Linked DNA regions of Homo sapiens: all the other regions are linked to region 1. The links come from fine-mapping of genetic effects on gene expression. A gene starts in region 1. Each other region holds a variant in brackets. All regions are shown on one strand. Distances are between the middles of the regions.

Region 1 (8,007 bases):
CCTGGACTCCAGCAAGACTCCATCTCAAAAAAATAAAAATAAAAAAATAAAAAGAAGCATGTGAGAATCCTCCCCTTCCCTGACACAGTGAGGCATTCCGAGGGACCCTAAATTGTGTGCAGTGCTTCATCCCCAAGTTGATGGCCCCCATCCTCAGTCACCCTCATTTTCACTGGCCTCCTCCCTCCTGTTTCGCAGAGGCAACTCCCAGCGAGGGTAGGAGGCAACAGGTGAGGGATACCAGGTAGAGCTGCGCCAGGTGCATGGGGCAGGGGGTTGGGGGGGGGCGGTGGTTAGAGGTGTGTCTAGAGGGCCACGGTGCTCCTGGAGTACACTGAGCAGGACAGGAGATGCCGCCATGCAGACAATGGAGACACCCGAGGGACCCTGAGCTCAGCACTACATCCCACATTGCAGTGATGGATGTGTACCAAACACATTCCTGAGTCACAGAGTACAAACAGAAAGCTCACGAAACTTGGAGAGTCTAGTTTTCTGCTTTTACGAGAAACGGATAGACATCAAGGAAACCACTGTTCCTGCCCGAGCTGCACTCGAAAAGCCCCACGGCAGGACACGGGCCTGCATCCGGATTCAACATACTCTAAGATTCAAAACGCCCTCAATCTAGGAGAATTTAGTCCTGCTCAGCAGCATTTTGGTGGCAGCGATTTTTCTTGTCTCAGCGTTTTAGGAGCAGTGAGGCAGCGTGGAAACGACACAACTGTGAGCCATGATCCCTGTGAAGATGAAGCCACGCAACACGCCCTTCACTGTGGGGGCAGAAAGAAAGAACTGTGTTCCATGTTGTGATGGTTTTTAATACTCTTGCTGTGAGGAAGAGAGTAACTAAGTTAATCAACCACCTACTTAATTAACCAACTAACCAGCATCCCTCATTCTAGATCAACAAGGATAGCAGCAGAGGATTCTAGGTAGACAGGACTGGCTCTAGGTCATTCCAGGCACAGCTTGCAGGGGTTAGCTGATTCCCCAGTGATTTCTGGGGTCCTACAGGAAGGACCCGGGGTCCCAGGGTCAGCTGACCTCCTGGAGAGCTTCAGACGCCCAGACCCACCCTTCCCATGATAGCTCCTGCTGCATGGGGCAAACCCACCAGATCAACCCGCAAGACAGGAGGCCCCTCCCTGGGAAATCTATGGGGGCCGCTGTGAGGAAGCCTCGAAGCCTCAATTCTAAGCGTGCTGCTGAGGCACTCAGCAAATGTCTCTGGCTTCCTAGTAAGTGGCAGGGATCTAAACAATGCTTTCTGCCCTCAGGAAGGTGGAAAGTTCCTCCCCCTCTCAAGTTCATACACAGGGACACAGGGAGGGAACAAGAGGCTTCCCCTGAACAGGGGTGGTTTACAACAGGCTGATCTTAAGAAAGGAATGGGGCACATAGAGTCAGAGAACTGGGCTCATTCAGATCCCTAACTGTTCCCAGACTTTAAGAATTTACTTGGTATTTTACTCATCTGTAAAATGGGTCCTTGTGTAGAGTCCTAAGCAGATATAAGCTGCGACTGCCAAATGGTAGGTCAGCCCTTCCACTCACTGTTCTTGCCATACTGCCTCCTCCTCAGGTCTCTGCTATCCCCTTCAGCAACACCTCCTGCAGTGGAAGAGCATACTTTGACACCCCCTCTCCTGCCCTTTATTTCCAGAGTCACATTTGCAAACAGCTCACTTTCAAAACATTAGGTGCCAAAGAGACACTTTGTTAAAAAAAAAAAAATCAATTTGCATTCAGGAATAAGTAGTGCCCTGGGGCTACTAGTTTTTCTATCTTGGTAGTTTTTTAAAGACATAATTCAGCTGAGCTGCTGATAGCTATGGCAGCCTCAGCTGAGGAATCGCTGTCTGGACATGCATTAGAATTCAGTCGACAGACGCGCAGCAGCAGCCAGGAACAGGGGTCTGGGACCCTAGAGTCCTGTCCCAGAATCCCAGGCTGCACTACCACCATGTTTCATTTCATCTCGGCCAAGTTACTTAGCCTTCCTTTGCCTCAGTTTACTCGTCTGTAAAATGGGGTAATCATAATCCCAACTCCCTCCAAGGAATGTAATTTGGGTGAAATGAAATGAATGCATGCAAAGCATTTAGCACAGGCAAACACTCAATCGGTATGCCTGTTACTTTGTCTTCGGGGTCACCATTACTATTCCTAAGGTCAGGAGTCGGGCTTGCTGCCAGTTCCTCCTGTCAATTCCCTGTGTACACACCCCCCACCCCCTGTGCTACCACACCCCCACCAGGACCCAGTGCACCTCCATCTCTGTGTAATGGCCTTGCCCCTCCACCCTCCAGCTGCAGCGACTCCCCACCCCCTCCCTGGCCCTCAAGGCCTCAGCACAGAAAAGCCTTTCTTAATACTTGTTGATTGATTTGCAAATATAACCTCACAGGCCCCAAAGAGAGAAGAACCAGAATCACCAGAACAAGTAAACCTCATTCAAAAGGGAAAGCATGAAAGCAATTTAAAAAATTAATATGCACAGACCAAAGCCTCAAGAAAATCTAAAATGTCAAAGGGTTGGTTAGTTCAGAAGGGCCATGCAATATTAATACAATGAGTTCTGCATTCATACTTTTCAGTATATTTTCAGAGTCCTCCATGATCATGCATTCAAATAGTGAAAAAAATGGGGGGAAAGCCAACCCGGAAGATCAAAGTGTGTGAATGCGCCCCAAGGAAGCCTGGGGGCTTCCCAGGGGGTTGTGACCACCCTCAGTAGTGCTCTCTGCTGGCCCCACACCCTGATGGCGCTTTGAGTTTTTCAACCACGCTGGAGTTCGGGTCATCTGCTGACACTGTCTGGAGAATGCCTGAGGAACGCCTGAATCTCTTCCCGCCACAGACACTCAAATCACTCCAAGCAAAGGACCCGGGACTCACATGTCAGGCCGCTGCACAGCACCGACACAGAGACCCCTGGGCCGTCCGGGACCCTCCCTCCTCCTGCTTGTCAGCGACAGCTCCCGCGTGCCAGGAGGCACATGCCACACAGCTGGCCCCCAGCCTGGGACAGCACCCCCCACCCCAGAATATCCCCCCACCCCGAGGTCCCGTCCTTCAGGGAAAAAAAGGAAGCGCGTAAAGACCCCCTGCCTCCCACCCACCAAAGGGAAAGGGAAAGAGACGCACTGGAGAGCTTGCCTAGAAAAAGTAGGAGAAGGGTCTTGAGCCTGCCCATTGAAGCCCCTAGCTGCGCTCTCCACCTGGAGTCTCGAGACGGAGTCCTAGGGAGCAAAGTCCGCTCGGTCCCGACAGCGACTGCGACATAGCTGCTCCGGTCTCTGCCCTCAGTCCAGGGCGCCCGGGCGCCACGGGTCCCACTCGAGTGGTCCTGCGCCCCAGCCAGTCCCCAAACCCAGCCAGTCAGCGCCCCCGTCCCCGGACTCCGGCGAAGCTGGCCCGCGCCCCAGCCCCTGTCCTGGGACTCCTGCCGAGCCCCCGCCCCCCACGCGCCGCAAACCCCGTACCCGCGCGCACCAAACCCCTTGCCCGTGCGCCCCCAACCGGGTCCCCGCGCTCCCTAACCTGGGTTCTCCCGTGACCCCATCCCCGCGCCCTGAGCTCCCGTACCCCGCGCTCCCCGAACTCTGTCTCCGCGCTCCCCGAACTCAGTCCCCGCGCCCCAGCTCCAGATCTCTGTGCTCCCCAAGCCTCGTTCCTGCGCCCGGAGCGCGAAAGCCCGCGCCGGGCCCGAAACAAAGAGGACCGCGGCGCGTGGCCGCGTTTCCTCCTTCCCCGGCCCCAGTACCTGGGGGAGCCTGAGGCGCGGTCCGGCAGGGCGATGGCCGCAACGAGGCTGGGCTCCGAGTAGCGCGCGGGCGGGCCCGTCCTCCTGGCTGGCTGCCGGCGCCCGCGGCAGGGCCCCCTCGAGGCGGCGCGGGCAATCGCCACGGCCGGCCCCCGCGCCCGCGCCCCGAGCCTGGCGGGTCACCTGGCCTCATCACCCTAACAATGCAGCGCGCCTCCAGGCGCCCTTCACCGGGGTCCCCCGCCCTGCCGAGGTGCGCCCTGGGACCTCCCTTCGCTGGCCGCAGAGAGGACCTGGAATTATCAGACCCATTGAGCAGCCCAGGCTCCAAGTGGTCTGGAGGCTTGCAGGTTCCGCCGGGCCGGTGTTAGAGTACCTGGGGAGGCGGGTTCGGATCCTGGTTCCTGCACAACCAGTTCATTCTTTCATTCAGCGCCTGTGATTAAGGTGCTCTCCGGGAGCAAGACCTACCCTCCCTCCTGTAGCTCATAGCCTAGTGGGAGTCGCGCATACATAAAGGAGCACAGCCGCTCCGGAAAGCCTAGGGTGCCGTAGAAGCCCCTGAAATACCCAGCTAATGAAGGGAGGAGGTCAGGGAAGTCTTTAGAAGTCACATGACTTCTTAAAATGCGCCGGGACAAATGAGCAGAATTTAGGCAAGCCAGGGGAAACCAGAAAAACGATCCCGAGCAGAGAGATTCTCAGAGGAGGAAAGGCCTATAGGTTGTCCATCCTGACTGTCCATCCCTGAGATTCAGATGGCCCTGAACTCAGTCGCTTAGCCTCAGTTTCCCCATTTGTGAGATCGGGGGAATGGAAAAAGTTTGCAGAAATCAGAAGTGCTCTTCCTCCAGGGAGGTCACAAGAGAAATTTCATCAGCGGTTTGTCCTGTGGTCCTTTCCAGGAAAACATCCTCCCCGCCAGCCTCTCACAGAAGAGACCTAGATTTCATCTGCCACGTGGAGCAGGCGGTCTCAGAATCCCACCCGGAGCAGGGTCCAGGGCAAGTCTTGGAGGACAGTCACCAAGAACTGCTTTGGATTCGGGAACAGAGCTGCCTAACCCATCCGCAGCCCTGGGGTCCTGCCCTGTTCCTCTGGCCCCTTCAGGGCAGCGGGGGAAGCAGGGAAAACAGCCTGTCAGAGATGGCAGAGAAACCGAGCAAGAATAATTATCCTGGAAAAGACTTTCAGAAGTAACCACCAGAAACTTCGAGTCCCCAGATCCAAACAGCTGAGAATGTGGGGCCTGAGCCACGCTCTGACTCCACTCCCACCACATGAGGAGAAACAAGAGCTGCTTTTCTGGAAGACTTGAACAACCCCTGCTGTGCTCTGGAAGGTAGTGTCATTTCTCATCCCCAGACTGATCTGGGTATTTATTCCCAGGCAAAGGCTTCATGAGCACCATGCCCCAGCCCCTAGAGATGAGGCAGGCATTTTTCCTACACTCTAGGAGACACCAGGTCAAGAGTCAATGAGATGAGTCAAGGGGTGCCAGGGAAGATGCCATAGGGGAAGGTGGGGAGGAGGTCACAGCCAGCTGGGTTAGGAATGGGGGTGAGGCTGGTACTGTTACGATCTCCTTTGTCCTGATAAGGAAACAGGATCTGACATTCTAGGCAACTTGTTCAAGGTCACCCACCTGGTCAGGCGAAGAAAGTGGGAGGGATCAGGACTATCTGGCCTTGAGGCTACTCTTAACTTCTTCCCAGCTGCCTGCCCACACCATCCACTCTGTGCAATTGGACTAAATCATCACTTTGCTCAACCCTCTCTTCCATTAAGACCGTGGTGATCTTCACACCCAGAGCCAATTACGTGCTATTCTGTGCATCACAGAAACCATCATAATGCCAAAAACCATGTTGGCTGAATGACAACATGAATTTGAGCTTCTTGCAGTGTTAGGGCACCCATTTACAGGAGGTGACACTGTTGTTTGTCTGAGAGCTCACAGTCAGGAAAACTCAGTGCAGTGCTGGGGTTCTCTGACCCTTTGTCAGGGAGCCTCTTCTAAAATCTCTCCAAACTGCTACCCACACCCAAGCCAGATGGCCCCACCGGCCACACTGCCCTTGTTGGGGTAGCAATGGAATGGGATGCCCCAACCACACCTTTGTTTCTAGAAAAACTGTGACTTGGGTGCTCATTCGTGCAGTGTCTGTGGTTATATTCCCTGGCAGTGTCCCAAGAAAGGAGAAGAAAAACCGGGCTCCAGTATCCCCACGCACTCTGTGTTGGCTGGGATGGCTGTTCCCCGGGTTCCCCACACCTCGTCTAGAGGCACATGAAGGGAAGCCTCTCTGGATCCCCAATCGGGACCTGGGCCCCTTCCAGAGCTTCGCTTCCCCAGCCCAGGGCCTCCCCACTTCGCAGGCTGCAACTTCAAGTTTCCAAGAAATTAAACAAAAACAGGGCATGAACCAGTATCTGAAAAAGGGAATGTGCATTTTTTCCATCCTTAGCCATCCAAAAAAAACTCAACTTTGAAAACAAAAGTCTCCAACATTTAGCTGAAAAAAAAAAAAAGCAGCAATATGCCAAGAGTGGCCTCTCCCTCCTAGTATGCCAAGCAGAGGGCAGGGGAGTCTGGGCAAGAAACTCCCGCCAATCTCCTTCCTCCCTGAGCCCTTCTTTGCAGACTCATTCTTGCTCCTCCCCTGTAGGAGTTTTAGAAGATGTGTTGGAAGCTTGTCATTGCAATGAAGATTGTCTTTGCCACCGCAAAAATCTGAATTTGTATCCCTAGATCAAGGGAGGTATATGAGCAAGGACTTGGATATTTTTCCTTATTTCTTACTTTCTGTCACTGAAAATATTTCCCAAAGACCAACTGAAAGAGACAGCAGGAAACATTACACAGGATGGAGTTACAAAGCTCTACAGCGCATTCAGAGAACTGTGGAGTTGGAACATGAGCAAATGCCTGTGTTTTGCCTTAAGATACTGAGTCTCGGCCGGGCGCAGTGGCTCACACCTATAATCCCAGCACTTTGGGAGGCCGAGGAGGGCAGATCACAAGGTCAAGAGATCGAGACCATCCTGGCCAATATGGTGAAACCCCGTCTCTACTAAAAATACAAAAATTAGCTGGGAGTGGTGGCACGCACCTGTAGTTTCAGCTACTCAGGAGGCTGAGACAGGAGAATCGCTTGAACCCAGGAGGCGGAGGTTGCAGTGAGCTGAGATCGCACCACTGCACTGCAGTCTGGGTGACAGAGCAAGACTCTGTCTCAAAAAAAAAAAAAAAAAGATACTAAGTCCCTTGAGACTCTTACTAGAACACCTGGCCCTTTCCTCTCTTCCTTTTTCTCTTCCCAAACACACGAATCCTCACCTACAGCTCAACAAAGTGGGCTTTACAGTTGCCAGGCCTGGCTAGAGGCACCTGAGCTTTTCCGTGTCTCAGAACCTTTTCGGAATTTACATAACCTTGGTGTTTGTGATGGCTCATGTCAGATGTCAACTTGATTGGGCTAAGGGTTGCCCAGATAGCTGGTAAAATGTGATTTCTGGGTGTGTGGGTAGCGTGTTTCTGGAAGAGCTTAGCGTTTGAATGGGTAGACTGAGTAAAGCAAATCCATCCTCACCAGTGTGGGTGGGCACCATCCAGTCCTTCAAGGGCCCAAGTAGAACAAAAAGGCAGAAAAAGGGTGAGTTCTTCCTCTTCCTTCTTGAGCTGGAACATTCATTTTCTCTTGCCCTCAAATATCAGTGCTCCTGGTTTTCAGGCCTTTGGACTCAGACTGGCAATTACACCACCAACTTTCCTGGGTCTTCAGTTTGCAGACATAGTTGTGTGAGCCATAATTGTGTGAGCCAATTCCTATAATAAATTTCTTCTAGGCCAGGTGCAGTGGCTCACGCCTGTAATCCCAGCAATTTGGGAGGCCGAGGCGGGCAGATCACGAGGTCAGGAGATCGAGACCATCCTGGCTAACACGGTAAAACCCTGTCTCTACTAAAAAATACAAAACAAAAAAAAAATTAGCCAGGCGTGGTGGCAGGAGCCTGTAGTCCCAGCTACTCGGGAGGCTGAGGCAAGAGAATGGCGTGAACCCGGGAGGTGGAGCTTGCAGTGAGCCGAGAATGCGCCACTGCACTCCAGCCTGGGCGACAGAGTGAGACTCTGTCTCAAAAATAAATGAATTAATTAATTAATTAAATTTCTTCTATAGATCTGCATATGCCCTATTGGATCTGTTTCTCTGGAGAACCCTAATACAGCACCTTGT
Region 2 (8,007 bases), 99 kb before region 1:
TGCATAACATGCATGTCTATCCATATACATGTAACAACTACATGCATAACATACATGTATGTATTTGTACGCACAACAATTACACACATAATACACACACACACACACAGAGCAGCAGCAAGGGGAGTGGGCAGGAGCCAGGCTGGGCTAGAAGAGCGAGATCTCTTAGCAACCACACCTGTGAAAAGGTTAACAGGGAGGCCGTGTCCTGACGCAGGGGGAGGGCTGTGCTCCAGGAGACTGAAGACTCCTCTCTGGGACCCTGGGCTCCAGAGGGAACAATGACAACATCTAAGCAGCCAGGATGGGCCCTTTGGGCTCTGGCCTGTCTGACAGCCCTGCAACCGGCATCTTTAGAGCCAGCACACAGCTTTAGCCCTCTGGTGCCTCTGATGTCCAGGGCTCACCAACAAATCTGATGGCAAGGGACTGTCTGCGAGGTGGGAGAGCCTCAGCTGCCACCAGGAAAACAGGCTTCAGCCAGGGCCTCGGGACAGGCACACAGCTCTGGGGCCACCTGGGCCTCAGCCCCTGGCTCCCGGGGCCTATGACAAGCCTGAGGAAATCAGTCACAAACCGCAGCCTGTCAAAACCAACTACAAACACAGGCTCCCAAGTCCCCCCACGCCCCCTACTCCCCCACCCCCCCGTCGGCGGTGAGTGCCACAGGAGGAATGGAGTGAGACTGGACCACAGGCCTGGGGACACAGCTGAGGCCAGCAGGGACAGCCAGGCAGGCGCCCGCCCCGGACGGCCTCAGCTCTTGATGCTGCAACATGTTTCTCATAGTTTGTCAATATTTTAGGTTTCTGGGTGAGATTTTATTTTTAACGTTCCTATGACCTCAAATGCATACTTTGCTCTTCCAGAACCAAAGAGACCACACCACATGCCAGCATTAAAAGGAGCATAATAAGGGCACCCCGCCTGTGGCCAGGCTTCTGTGACAGGCCTGACCCTGTAGTCCCTCTTCTCTCATCCGCAGCTAGGTTAGAGAGCACCTCTATGGCCATTGCATAAAGGAGAAAACCGAGGCTCAGGTGGGCAGGGGGCGAGGGCAGGGCCTGGCCACTCAAGTGATGAGGTTAGAGAGCCACCCCCACGCCCACTGGGTAAAGGAGGAAACCAAGGCTCAGATGGGCAGGGGGCAAGGGCAAGGCCCAGCCACTGGAGCCAGGATCTGATCTTGACTTCATCAAAGCAGGGAAGCTGCCACACGGGCGCCGCTGGCCGAGCCTGGGGAAGGATGTCCTACTGCACCACAAGACAGAGCCAGTTAGCCAGTTCCATGTCTGGAGGCCACCAGGCTCACAATCCAGAAAGGCTGCCAAATCTCCGGCAGAACACCCCAGATTCTGTGTATGGCGAAGCTAGGGGGAGCCAAGAGCAGAAAGCCCTGCCCTACTTGAGAAGTACAGGGAACAACACACCTGACAGATGCCCAGGAGGAACCACAGGGTGCACCTGTTTCCCTGCCCCACCGGGGAGGCCCAGACCTGCACACACTTCCCCAGCAGCAAGAGGCAGCTTCCCATTTGCCTCCCAGGGAGTCGCTTCTGACTTGCAGTGAGAGAAGAGGGTCCTGTATCCTACTGTCTTGGCACAGTGAGCCTTTCAATTATCCTGCAAGCTGCTAATAAGCCCTCAGAAACAAAGCTTCACTCACTCAGCTCCAAAGGATGGAGGCAAAGAAAACACCAGGAGGTACCATGACCTTCCAAGGAGCTGCATTTGAAAAGCAGACAGCAATTTAAATTTGCCTAATCACAAGCCAAAGAGAAAGTGCTATTGTGTTTACCTTCAATCTGATTTGAACACACACACACACACCCAGTATTTGTCAGAGCTGGATGTCAGTCTACAAACCACTGCACTACACTGTCCACAGCCACCTGGCGACCCAGGCACCCTCACTGTCCAGGTTTTTATCACTAAGACAACAGACTTGTGCTGTCTTCACTTTATAGCCAAGGAAACTCGGCCCAGGGAGATTCGCCCCGAAGGTAACTATTACTGATAGAAAGGCAGCTCCCGCAAAGGCGCAGCGGATCCTCTTCTCTAAAAAACCATGCAAATGGCCAGTGCAGCATGGTCAAAGGACCTCAGATAGAGCCTTGTGAATGCAAGCTACAGGTCAAAGGGAGGGCATGGATCCTAGAGGAAGCCAAAAGATCCCCAAAGAGGGAGCAGCTTCAAGAAAGGACTTAGTCCTTTCTTGGATGGAACAAGGGAGCCAAAGAAATGCAAAGGGCTTACCTGTTCCAGTCGGACTTGCACACCGCAGGGAATCACCACCTTTCAAAGAGAGAAGAAACAGATAAGCAAATGGATTCTCCAGGAAAAAATTAGCATAATAATCAAGCCAGGCTCCCAAAGACTGAATGAAACTGTCTCTAACCTCACTCTGGCTACAAAGCTGTAGCAGATCAAGACTGACAAGATTTAGAGTTAAGAGAGTCCAGGGTTTTGTTCACTTTTGGAAAGTCCCTGTCATTTTTGCTAATGTCATGGAAACCATGGGGCCTCCCCTTCCAGAAAAATGCAAATCACTCATAGATACAAAATTTAGCCCCCACTTTCACAAAGAACTGGTAGACCTCAAGGATGGAAACCTCTGAGTCGGTCCGTGCTTGGGGAGCTTGGGAGCGGGGCCCAGAGAAGGAGGTGGAAGGCTCTGCCTGGTGGTCTTCAAGACCCCACTCCTCCCATCCTCACCCAGGGGCATGCATTCTCTACACAAGGGGCCATCTTTTCTAGAACTATTTCTACAAGTAGAACTGAAGAGTCTGAATGTGGCAATGTCAACCTGGTTATTCCATTCCGCACAAGAGACGGGGAGAGGAGACTTTGACTCCACCATAGTCTCTGAAGACCGAGAGCTCCCTGGGAAAGATAAAGAAAGTAACGGAGGCAAGGTGGCTCAAACACAGTCAGGAGAGGCAGTTAGTAACAGGCACAGGGAGCCACCAGTCCTGCAGGGCAAAGACCCCACCTTGGGCAGGATCTCCACCACTTACTAGCCACAGGACCTTGGCCTTTAATCTCTCTGGGCCTCAGTTTCCACATCTGAAAACTGCAGGTAACAATAGTGCCTTCCGGGCAGGGTCATGGTGAGAATTAAGAGATGGCGCGTGAGGAGCTCAGAAGAGTGGCACAGGGCAGGGGCTAAGGGAGCCAGGCAGGCATTGCGCTGCTCTGGGGGGCCGCTCAGGAGCCAGGCGCCAGCAAACAGGATTCAGTTCCTGGTGAGTGACCTCACTCCTTAGCTTTCTCCTGGCACTGCCCCCTCCAGATCCCTGGCACCTGCCTTCTCAAAGAGTTTTCTGAAAATGTGCAACCGAAGGAGAATCGTAGAGAATCTCAGAGATCTGACTAATTGTACTTGTGGTTTGGAGTGGGCGGCGGCGTAATCTTGGCT[T/C]TTACCAGGATAACTATTTATAGCCTCTTGCTTATCTTACGCAGTCCAGTCCTCAGGGAGTATGTGACACATGGCCGTTCCTGTGTCTGGGACACATCATTACTCCACCATGGCTCTGACTCAGACGGATGTCTGGGGCAGGGGTCCTCTCTCAGGGCCCCTTTAAAGTTTGATGAATGGATGAGAGAATAAGTAAACAAATAAATGTAAAGCAAAACAAAACAAAAACAGCTTTGGAAACAGAAGGAGTCACAGACAAAACCTTACAGGATGGCGGAAACAGCCGGACAAGGAGACCCCATGGTTAACAGAGCGGTGTGACTTATCTCCCCTCAAGCATGGTATCTACTCAGTGCACACATGCATCTTGTTGCCTCACTCCACATGTGACATGCAGGCAAGAAATGTGCGAAGAATCAGGGCCCCTGCCTTTCAAACTCACTATCAGCATTCCTGCAATGGCATGTCAAGCATGATGAAAAAAAAAATGAGCTATGAAGGCAGGAAAACACAAAGAGGAAACTTAAATGCATATTACTAAGTGAAAGAAGCCACTCTGAAAAGGCCACATACTGTATGATTTCAACTCTGTGACATTCTGGAAAAGGCAAAACTATGGGACAGTGAAAAGGTCAGTGAAAGCCAGGGATTAGGAGGGAGAGAGGAACAGGCAGAGCACAGAGACTCTTTAGGGCCATGAAGCTATTCTGCTTGACACTATAAGGATGGACGCACGTCATTCTGCATTTGTCTAAACCCACAGAATGTACAACACCAGGAGAGAATCCTAATGTAAACCGAGGGCTCTGGTTACTAAGACTGTATCAATATTGGCTAATCAAGTGTAACAAATGTACCACAGGAATGGAAAATGTTTATATATGAAGAGGAAGAAGAGTGTGTCCAATTTTTTTTTTTTTTTTGAGACGGAGTCTCACTCTGTCACCCAGGCTAGAGTGCAGTGGCACGATCTTGGCTCACTGCAAGCTCCGCCTCCCGGGTTCACGCCATTCTCCTGCCTCAGCCTCTCGAGTAGCTGGGACTACAGGCGCCCGCCACCACGCCTGGCTAATTTTTTGTATTTTTAGTAGAGATGGGGTTTCACTGTGTGAGCCAGGATAGTCTCGATCTCCTGACCTCATGATCCACCCACCTCGGCCTCCCAAAGTACTGGGATTACAGGCGTGAGCCACCATACCTGGCCTGAGTGTCTGATTTTTGTATAAATCTAAAACTCTCTTAAAAATACAGTCTATAATACATTTTTTAAATTCACTCTCTGGAAGCACACGTTTGTTGAGACAATGAAAAGAAAAGCCTTGTGCAATGTCAGAAACTTGAGTTTTAAAGACGGCAGCCACTTAAGGATTTGGTCCAGAAGCCAGGTCTGTGTGTTCCCACATCCCTCTGTGGCCAGATGGGGTGCAATAACGGCCCACCACCTGGCCTGGCCCCAGGGTGTCCTACAGAAAAGGAGAGGTGAGCTCTGTAAGCCGGGACTGCCCGAGTCCCATCTCACCCCAGACCATCCACGGCTTATATGGCTAACCGGCTCGCGCGATAAGTTGGCACGCCCAATCTTGTCGAACTCCATCCATCACTTGTGCTGCACATTTTCACTGACAGCCTTCTCCTGCCAGGACTTCACTTGGAAATGAAGCAGACTGGTCCCTAACCCCACAGAGCTTACGGCTCACGTAATAGAAACTGCATAAAATGAATCGTTTTTAAGAAAGTGAGCTGGGGAACAGTAGGGGGCGAGCAGCCCCCAGGTTCTGCAGAGCAAATGGCAGGCAGCCTTGCCCTGAGCCTCCACATTCGCATCCTACTGAACTTGCTCCTCTCTTCCAAGAGAACCAGTCACAGGCCCTACTGTCTGTTTGCACATGTGCTGTTACAAAATGCAGACAAAAATGTCTCAGGAAAGACCTTTTGTGGGAGTGGATTTGCAAATAAAAATGCACATGGAGCACCAACCAGAGAAAAAGGGACATTCTAGAAGCAAAGAGTCACCTGTTGATAAAGAGAAAACTCATCATTTCTATAAGTACAAACATCTCATTTAGCAAAAACCATGACCAAGTGAACACAGAGGGCACTTGTTCTTTCAATGTGGCTAAAACCAGATTCCAGGACAGGAAGTCCCTGAAAAGAGACTGTATTTCCGTCACACTTTTCCTCCCTTATACTAAGGCAGGTAAGCTGACCACAGACAGAACCACAGGATGAGGCGGCCGGGCTGGGGATGCTCATACCGGCCTGCTCAGCACCAAGGAACCTATGGGGACTGTGCGACGGTGCTATCAGCTGCATTTGCTGGACAGTCAAGTGTCACTTGCTGTTCTTCAGCCTTAGCAGAGGCAGAAGCACAGTGCTTCCGTGCACAGAGCTGCATCCCTGCTGGAGCGCACACAGCTCTCCACTGATCTACAGGCTGCCCTGCCTCCCATGCATCAGGAGGGTATCTCCTGTGGATGGAGCCAGGTAAGGGAGTAAGGCACACCTGCTTGCTCTCCTCACCTCAAACTCCAGCTCTGATCACACATTCCCCAGCACTGTGGGGTTCTTTCACTGTTTTCACTGGACAGAGGGAAGCACCGTGGGTCGGGGCCAACTCCAGGTGGGCTTGGCCTTCCTCGGCACAAAGAAGCTAACACTTCTTTAGCACTTATGTTCTTAACATGCCAGTCTGACTTATTCAGAGAGAGCAGCCACCCAACGCTGCAGGGCTGGGAGGGTCCCGGTGCACTGCATCCCCTGAGACCGTCCTGCAGACGCCAACCAGAAGCCTCTGAGCTGCGCCTGGCCCCATCAGTGCACAGCCAGCATGGCTGGGATGTGTGCGGTGGCATGGCCAGGAGTCTAGATGGGCACCCGCTGGCCTTGTGCTTTGCCTGCTCTGTAACATGATGCTGAGTGAGCTGCAGGGGCGTGAAAGGATGAGACAAGAACCAGGCAGCGTTCCCTGTGTCAAGGCACACTCCTGGGGAGGCCCACGGCTCATCCAATGTGTGGACTCGAATCAGCTGGATAAACACGAAACAGTGCCCTGTCTGTAGGTCTTTCTCTGTAGCCCTCACAATAAGGCCAGCGAGCCCCCACTCTGTGTATGAGAAGCTGCGTCTCAGAGAGGGCCAGCGCCAGCCACGGGAACTCTCCCAGAGATGACTCCAGCTGGTGCCCCAGCTCCAGGCTCCTCTCCTGATAGGAGCTGCACCCTCTCTCATAATGAGCAGCTCCCTCAGGGATTAGGGTGACAAGAGGTGACAACAGTGAGACAAGGAAGGGGGCAGAGCAGCTCCCGTTAGCAGCTACAGAAGGCTGGAGAGAAGGCAGTGGGTCATGGGCTGTGGGCCAAAAGCCATGGGCTGTGGCATCCCCGGGATCCGTCCCTCCCATGGTGGAGGCGAGGGCCCCTCTGAGAAGCCTGTTTGGGAGCCTCTTTATTGCCTTCTTTCAGCTATCCTGGGATCCTAATCTACTGTTCCCAAGGAAACCACAAACAAACACTGCTGTGCCTGCCCCACACCTGGCTACGTGGGTGCCTGGGTACACTGGCATCAATAACCTTGTCCCCAAGCCAGCAGGTCCACAGGACAGAGGGGCAGAGGGACAAGTGCTTGCCACCAAGTCATGACTGTGTCCTTGGGAATGTGAGTGTGTGGGTGAGCGTATGTGTGTGTGGATGAGTGTGAGTGTGGGTGTGTGAATGTGGGTGAGTGTGGGTGTGTGAGTGTGGGTGTGTGGAGGTGAGTGTGTGTGGGGGTGAGTGCAGGTGTGTGAGTGTGGGTGTGTGGGTGAGTGTGTGTGTGTGAGTGACTACATGTGGTGGTGTCTGTGTTTGACTAGGTATATTTTACTGTGGATATCTGCAAATATATTCTTTTGTGTGAATGTGTGTAAGTTTGAGAGTGTTGTGAGTTTGCATATGAGTGGGTGAGTCAGTAGTTATGTGCATGGGAGTGTAAAAGTGTAGGGGGTGTGAGCGTGTGTGCTTGTGAGAATGTATGAACGTGCATGTGTGAAACTGAGTTTTGTAAGTGTGTCTGTGTGTGTTTCTATGTATGCCTATGCCTCATGTGTGTGTATTGATGTGAGAGCGTGTCTGTGTGTGTCTCCGTGTGTGAGTGTATACCTGTATGTGTCTCTGTGTGTTTGTGTGTGTGCACACACAACAAAGCTTAGCCCTGCAGTTCCATCCCCCAAGGTGAATGAAAGCACTTCAGCTAACAAGTACATTCTGCCTTAGAAAGTGCTTTCATCCAAGGTGCACTGGCCCGGCCACCATTACCCCCAGTGCTAACAGACACAGGGCCTCGGGTGCAGATCTTCCTCAGTAAGGAGTGAGATCAACTCTTCAAACCTGAACCAATCCCTCTCTGCTTACTTCTGGGAGATCCAAGTCCTGGGAGAAATAAAGGACAACTCAGTTCTCCTCGTGCTTGACCGACATTGTTTTCCTTTTGATGAACACAATAAAACTCCAAACTCAGCTTTTATTGTTGTTTCTTATTAAATTTCACTTTGTAAACAGCCATATAGAAAGTGACATTTTTCCATCAGTTTCTCTAAAGCCGTGTGGGTATAGC
Region 3 (8,007 bases), 180 kb before region 1:
CAAGTGTTCGGACCCTGCACAGAGCACAGGCAGCAACATTAGTCCCAGTGAAACCCATCACCTCCATCCAACCGACTCCACCATAAGGACAGGTGAGCAGCCTGACTTGAGCAGGAGAGAGAAGCCTCTCCATCCTCCACCCTCCTGCCAGGAGCCACAACACTAATCAGAGACTGTGGAGGATTTTCCACAACTAGAACCATAGTTAAAGCCACGAGGGGGAAGGGATAAGTAAGCACTGATCTTTCGTCCACTGTGAACCAGGCTTGGACACTTCTGCAAAACGAGTCTTCAGACCACCTCACTGATGAGGACACAGAGGCCCGGTAAGCTGTCTCTGAGCCTCAGAGTCCACAGATTTGAATCCAGGCTCCAGGCTCTCAGATCCACACTCCTCCCTTCAAGTCTTTTTAGGAATACCAAGGGGATTTTTAACACACAAGCCATGTATTTAAAGGTTTTTGCCTAAATCTATGACAATGAACATAGAAAAAGCATGATTATTTCCACAGCTATTAAAAAGGGAAACAAAACTCCCATGCATGTGGATCTTGGTGATGGATCTGGACAATTCACCTTGATGATAAAGGGACTGGTTTCTTTTGAAATATATTTTTTAGGGAAAAAAATTGTTTCGCACATAATACTTGCAGCCTACTATACTTCTAATTCTCTTTTTAAAATGCTGGTTACTTTGGGGTTAATGATGAAATCATGATGGAAATTTAAAAATTCCTTGAAATGAATGATAATAGTGACACAAGTTATCAAAACCTCTGGGATACAGCAAAGCAAGTGTTAAGAGGAAAGTTTATAGCACTAAATGCCTACATCAAAAAGTCTGAAAGATCACATATTGACAACCTCATGTCACACCTCAAGGAACTAGAGAAGCAAGAATAAACTAAACACAAAGCTAGTAGAAGAAAATGAAAAACAAAAATCAGTGCAGAACTAAATGAAATTGAAACAAAATACAAAAGATCAATGAAACAAAAAGCTGGTATTTTGAAAAGATAAACAAAACTGATAGACCATTAGCTAGATTAACCAAGAAGAGAGAAGATTCAAATAAATTCAATTAGAAATGAAACGAAACATTACAACCAGCACGAAAGATCATTCAAGACTATTATGAACACCTTTATGTATATAAACTACAAAACTGAGAGGAAATTGGTCAATTCCTGGACACAGACAACCCTCCTCGATTAAATCAGGAAGAAATAGAAACCCTGAACAGACTAGTAAAAAGCAGTGAAAATGAATCAATAATTTTTTTAATGCCAATAAAAAAGAGCCCAGGGCCAGATGGATTCACAGCTGAATTCTACCATCCATTCAAAGAAGAACTGGTGCCAATCCTACTGAACAATTCCAAAAGACTGAGAAAGAGGAATTGTCCCTAACTAACTCATTCTATGAAGCCAGTATCACCCTGATACCAAAACTAGGAAAGAATATAACAAACAAACAAACAAAAAAGAAAATCACAGACAAATATCCCTGATGAACATAGATGCAAAAATCTTCAACAAAATACTAGCTAACTGAATCTAACAGCACATTAAACAGATAATACACCATGATCAAGTGGATTTCATCCCAGGAAGCAGGGGTGATTTAACATATAGAAGTCAATAAATGTGATACACCATACAAACAGAATTAAAAACAAAAACCATATGTCATTTCAGTAGATGTGAAAAAGGCATTCGATAAAATCTAGCATCCCTTTATGATAAAAACACTCAACAAACTAGGCATAGAAGGGACTTACCTCAAAATAATAAAAGCCATGTATGACAAACCCATAGCCAATGTCATACTGAATGGGGAAAGGTTGAAAGCATTCCCCCTGAGAAGTGTAACAAGACAAGGATGCCTACCTTCACCACTTCTATTCAACATAGTACTGGAATAGTACTGCCAGAGCAATCAGCTAAGAGAAAGAAATAAAGGGCACCTAAATCGGAAAAGAGGAATTAAAACTGTTGCTATTTGCCAATGATATGATCATATACCTAGAAAACAATAAAAACTCCTCCAAAAGACTTCTAGATTTGATAAACGAATTCAGTAAAGTATCAGGTTTCAAAATCAATGTACACATATCTGTAGCACTGCTGTACACCAACAATGACCAAACTGACAATCAAATTAAGAACTCAATTCTTTTTACGACAGCTGAAAAAAAAAAAAAAAAAAAACTAGAAATATACTTAATCAAAACGTGAAAGATCCATACGAGGAGAACTACAAAACACTGATGAAAGAAATCAGAAATGACACAAACAAGTGGAAACACATCCCATGCTCATGGATTGGAAGAATCAATATACTGAAAACAACCATACTGTCCAAAGCAATCTACAGATTCAATGCAATTCCTATCAAAATACTAATATCATTCTTCACGAAATTGGAAAAAAAAAATCCTAAAATTCATATGGAACCAAAAAGGGGCCCAAATGGCCAAAGCAATCCTAAAAACAAAACAAAACAAAAATCTGGAGGCATCGCACTATTGGACTTCAAACTATACTAAAAGGCTATAGTTACCAAAACATCATGGTATAAAAGTAGACACACAGATCAATGGAACAGAATAGAGAATCCAGAAATACAACTGACTACAACTGATTGATCTTCAACAAAGCATATAAAAACATAAACTGGGGAAAGAATACCCTATTTAACAAATGGTGCTGGGAAAACTGGCTAGCCACATGTAGAAGAATAAGACTGGATCCCCATTTCTCACCTTATATTATAAAAATCAACTCAAGATGGATCCAAGATTTAAATCTAAGACCTGAAACCATAAAAAGTCTAGAAGACAACCTAGGAAAAACTCTTCTGGACATTTGCCTAGGCAAATAATCCATGACTAAGACCCCAAAAGCAAATGCAACAGAACAAAAATAAGTAAATGGGACCGAATTAAACTAAAAATCTTCTGTACCACAAAAGAAATAATCATCAGAGTAAACAGAACCCACAGAGTGAGACAGAATATTTGCAAACTATGCATCTGACAAAGAGCTAATATCCAAAATCTTCAAGGAACTCGAACAAATCCTCAAAAAAAAAAAACAAATAATCCCATCAAAAAGTGGGCAAATGATATGAACAGACATTTTTCAAAAGATATACAAATGGCCAACAAACACATGAAAAAATGCTAAACATCACTAACCCCCAGAGAAATGCAAATTAAAACCACAATGCAATACCACCTTACTCCTACAAGAATGGCCAGTCATGCCCAAGGCTCTCCTGGCTGAGTGGTTGTGAGCAAGTCACGCCACTTCTGGGGCTTACTGACACAAGTGGGCCTTCTTGTTCCACTATCCAATATCCTACATTTAAATAAAATTAATCACAGAAATCTCCAAATATGCACAAAGGCAGGAGACTAGTACTACAGCCCCAGCGTAGCCATCATGCACCTTTCACCAGTGTCAGCAAGGACCACCCAGTATTCCACCAAGCTACCCACCTTGAATCTTCTCAGGCGTGGCAGAGAAGACTAATTCAACCTTCCCATAGTCAGGAAAACGGTCATCTGAAAAAAACAATGTATTTTAACACATTTGTGGAGACAATTAACCGGAAAAGTATGGACTGACTTTGTCCTTTATTCCAACCAGTACAGCACCACTCCCAAATCTGCAATAAAGACACCCCATGATACAGAAAGTATAGGCAGTTTCATTGGTTATCCATAATTTTTT[T/C]CCCCCAGGGATCAATGATCATTTTCTCCTACTTTGGGAACAATTTTGTCAGTAGGCTGAATTTTGGAAAGAGGGTAAAGGGGATAGTGAAAGAATCAACCAAGGAGGTTCAACCGCAGCTGCCCACAAGCACAGGGCCGCCAGCTCCGCGCCTCACCTTTGCTGGCATTGTCCAGATCCTCCTTCCCAAACACCAGCCCGTAGCCCTGCACAGCCCCAGTGTGAAACTGCAGGCGGAAAATGACGTCACGGGTGGCCGAGCGGTATTTCTTGTGGTAGCATTTCACCTGGGTTAGAGAGACAAAACAAAACAAAGTAGCTGCAGCGGGGGACACACGTTCCCGGCAAGGAACACACTCCGCGGAGGCCGGCACAGCAGGGCCTCCCCTCTGGACTCTGGCTGGGAGTTCACGCTTTGGAGTGGAACTTCAGCCCTGGGGCACAGGCGCCTGCAGACAGCTGGGGTGCAGGCAGAGGCACCACACTGCTGCTGCTGGGTGCGGGGCTCCACTGGAGGCTTCAATGTGTTCCCTGTGCTGCTCCTGTGGAACCGCAGCTCTGAACACCACTATCGCTAGTCCTCAGAGAGGCCACACCTAAACCCTTTCAGACCACGTGAATGTGCCCTGTTTTGGAACACATCCGAAAAATAGAATTCCATGGTCTCTTTTTTCTAGACTTTAACAACTGATTGTGATAGCTTTTCTTTGATCTCAATGCTCCATGTTGCAACTTAAAGCTTTTTGTTTTCCAAAAAGCAGCAGCCGGTCATTACTGTGTGTACTATCCTAAATGATTATGTGCATGCTGTAATTTAGAGACAGAGATACAAAGAAGGAGGAAGGGAGAGAGGGAGACAGAGAGGGTGTTGGCATTTAGACAAGTGTTCAGAATCACCCTGATGTGATCTGAACTCAAGCTGGGGTTCATGAGGTCCCCAGGGTGCAGCTCAAGCACCCTAAATGATTGTGCCAATGAGCCAAAGGGTAGAGCAAGCCCCTCCTTGCAGATGCTTGGCATGTGGGGAACGGTGGGCAGAGCAGGAGCCTGAGTGTCCTGACCTGCCTGTATAACTAGGTCCCCCCTGCTTCTTGTGACCGTGCGCAGCACTGGCATCATTGGAAGGGTTCTCAGGCCACAGCTGGGGGAGCTGCAGGGACAGGGATACCCCTCACTCAGAGATCAGGGGCAGGACCACCAGGTAGTGGCACTTTCCCAAATCCCCAGAAGGCCGAAGGCCCTGGACAGGCTGGATTCTGCTCTCAGACCAAATCGTGCACAGGCAGGTACCTCCCCAACCCCGAGGCTGTGGGGTAGTGACTACCAGAGACAGCCACGTTCCCATAAAAGAGACTTTTCTTGGAGAAAGATGGCTTTAAAATATCACATGCCTCACAACAGTAAATGAGAAGCCACCGCAGCAGGTATGATCCGGACCAGCATGCGGGAGAATTCTGCAGGGAGGGTCTTCCCTAACCAGATGAACATCCACCAGAGGAACAAAAAGCCCAGAAACCCAGCCCAGGAGGCAGGGAGCTGTGACTCCAGGCAGACCCAGAAGATGTTTACCTTTGTGCTATCTACAAGGAAAGGGACGGGTAAATAAACCAAAAAAATATAATTAAGACTGTGGAAGGATGTTCCCTGTTGACAAACATGACTGGGTCTCCCTTGTACGGCCTGGCGCTGGCCAGCGGTGCTGTAAACATGGGGCTCAGACTCAGGCCTGGCCTCCAGGGGCCCAGGAACCAGGGCGTTTGCAAGTAGAAAACTGGCATTGTGAAGAAATGTTGCCTCAATTTGCTTTCCAACAGCCAATGGCACGTTGGCCACAAATCTACCACCTCTGTCCGAGACTGACTTCTCAGCAAGACTCAATCAAAGGCTGCCCTTGCAGGGATCCTTCCAGGATGTTCTGAGAGTATCTGGGCCCCTCCTTTGAGCTCCCCATGCCCCACACTCACTACACTGACCACCCATCAAATGCTTCAACCTGGGGCATATTGTAGAGATCCCCAGAGGGAGGTCCTTCTGGCCAAGGGTAAATCCACACATGCACCCCCATTGATAGAGATGATAGCACCCACCTTTCCCTGTCTGCCTTCAAATGTGCCTGTCTGCCTCCACTAGTGCCTTGCAAATGGGGAGTGAAAAGTGGTTAGGGAAGGGAAAAGGAAAAGAGATGCCCCAATTCAAGCCAGTCTTGCTCTCAAATTTTATAAATATTTAAGGGAACCAGAGATTTAAAAAAATAAAAACAACAACACGATGTCAGCTGATAGCTCACGCAGCCTGTGCTGCCATGGGCGCCAACATTTGCCCACAGGAGTCAGGAAACTCCTCAGGAGGCAGCTGTGGGCTCAGTCCTGGCAGGCAGGGAGTGTCCTGGGTGAAAACAGAGGGAGCTGTGGGCTCCAGTACGGGCCACATAAGGGGCACAGTGGAATATCCCCAACCGCAGCTCACCGTGCCCCTCCCGTCAGTACCGCCCCGCCCAGCGCAGGGCCTCCTTCCAGGCCAGGTCCTGCCCTCCCTCTTCAGGAATCCAGGATGCTCCCCCAGGTCCCCCCACTGCTCCTCATAGCAGCTACACACAAACACACTGCTCCTCCCGCAGCAATCCCAGCTCCCTCCACATACCAGAAGGGAGGAGAAGGCAGGCCACGGTGCCCAGGAGGTACAGAGTGGCAGGAGATGGGAATCGGCCTGTCCCAAACAGGTTCCTCTCCAGGCCCCATATGATTCTCCTGTAAGATTCCTATTTTTCACAGCACAAGCTTTCAAATACTCCTAAGGCTCCACAGTGAAAGAAAGAGCGGTCTATCCCACTGGCAGAGAACAACTGCTGCCTGAAATCACGTGGCCCTCCCTTCAGGGGTTTCTCTGTGTATTTTAATGCTAACTTTGTTTGCTGGCTTGAGATCCTAACGGCCTCATCATACACAATCCCTGTTTCATATTAAACCTCTTTCCTCTTGATTAATGGAGGTAAACACCACCCTCCCCAGTCCTCCTGACCAAATCATGAACTGACTCCAGCTTCTTCTGAAAGACACGGAAAACCACAGGATTTTCCCTAACTCGGGGCTCCCAGCAACCACCATCAACACAGCAGGTCAGATCTTGAGACAAAATCCACTCACCAACCAGGAGCCCTCCATAGTGTGCAATAATTATGCATTATCTACATCAACAAATCTTTTTAGGAGCAATGGCAAGAGATCAGAATTATGCTTGTAATACTTAACAGAAAGAACAATCAACATGGTACTTGGTACGAGGGCCCCCAAATGCCTCCCTTTAAGATATAATAGTAATGCAAACATTTCGTAAAGATTAGACTGATTCAAGTCTATAATTTTCCCTTCATCCCTCCGGCTTTAACTTTATTTACCTGGGTCTCCCCAGAGTGTTTCTAGAATATGTTGATCCTTTGCCTTCAGATTTTAGAATATCTGCATTTAAAATAACAACTCAAAGATGTGCAGTCACAATTTTGTAGCATAGAAAAATGAAATAAGAAATAGCAAGCACCACAACAAAGGCTGCGCACAGCCTGTCACCATGCTATCATAGAGCCAACCACAAAAGTACGTGGGTGTGATGTTGACATCACAAATCGCTGGGAGCACTCAGATCTTGAGAAAGTTGCAGCCTCTTTAGACTTTAAATTCTCTGACTGCAAAATGAGTATTATGATATTGACCTGGCTATGTTGTTATAAAGATTAAATTAGCACTACATATTAATATAATTCATTATCCAATAATGATATGCTATATTTATATGAATATATTATTTAAAGGGCATAAGCTTCTAGAGAGAGGGCACTTGGTACTCAAAAACATATAGGGTGAATGATGATCTCAATGGGAAGGCCTGTAAGCACTCTTGCTTTCTTTTAGTCTGATGAGGCAATTCAGAAACCATCGCCAAAATTTATTTTCTAATAGTGGTATAAAAATATGCCTGTGCCCGGCCGGGCGCGGTGGCTCACGCCTGTAATCCCAGCACTTTGGGAGGCCGAGGCAGGCGGATCACAAGGTCAGGAGATCGACACCATCCTGGCTAACATGGTGAAACCCCGTCTTTACTAAAAAAATACAAAAAGCCGGTCATGGGGGCAGGCGCCTGTAGTCCCAGCTACTCGGGAGGCTGAGGCAGGAGAATGGCATGAACCCAGGAGGTGGAGCTTGCGGTGAGCCAAGATTGCACCACTGTACTCCAGCCTGGGTGACAGAGAGACACTCAGTCTCAAAAAATAAAAATA

Which allele goes with the higher level. Positions count from the first base shown, and alleles are read on the strand shown. Sizes are in standard deviations (SD) of each study's normalised expression.
For the expression in monocytes after LPS of the gene that starts at base 3,830 in region 1, T is the high allele of the variant in region 2 and C is the other (moderate effect, 0.48 SD a copy in Fairfax 2014).
In carriers of allele C in region 3, the expression in skin of the gene that starts at base 3,830 in region 1 tends to be higher than with T alone (small effect, 0.27 SD a copy in TwinsUK).

The links.
Region 2: its variant is fine-mapped to the expression of TNS3 in monocytes after LPS (Quach 2016, PIP 0.95). The same link has a PIP of 0.9 or more in monocytes after Pam3CSK4.
Region 3: its variant is fine-mapped to the expression of TNS3 in skin (TwinsUK, PIP 0.91).

The regions. Positions count from the first base shown.
Region 1 is chr7:47,578,282-47,586,288 of GRCh38, forward strand. TNS3 (tensin 3) reads right to left here and starts at 3,830. Exons shown (of 31, transcript NM_022748.12): 1 at 3,770-3,830. RefSeq lists enhancers at 3,166-3,703, 3,704-4,241.
Region 2 is chr7:47,478,847-47,486,853 of GRCh38, forward strand. It overlaps TNS3 (tensin 3), which reads right to left. Exons shown (of 31, transcript NM_022748.12): 4 at 2,257-2,295. Among named protein-coding and RNA genes, the nearest start is that of SNORD151, 18 kb to the left of the region's middle. RefSeq lists enhancers at 1,207-1,890, 1,891-2,572, 2,345-2,434, 3,145-3,692. The variant T/C (reference allele first, on the strand shown) is at 3,419.
Region 3 is chr7:47,396,891-47,404,897 of GRCh38, forward strand. TNS3 (tensin 3) reads right to left here. Exons shown (of 31, transcript NM_022748.12): 14 at 3,895-4,024; 15 at 3,503-3,568; 16 at 1-14. Among named protein-coding and RNA genes, the nearest start is that of SNORD151, 64 kb to the right of the region's middle. RefSeq lists enhancers at 3,584-4,493, 6,240-6,748. The variant T/C (reference allele first, on the strand shown) is at 3,738.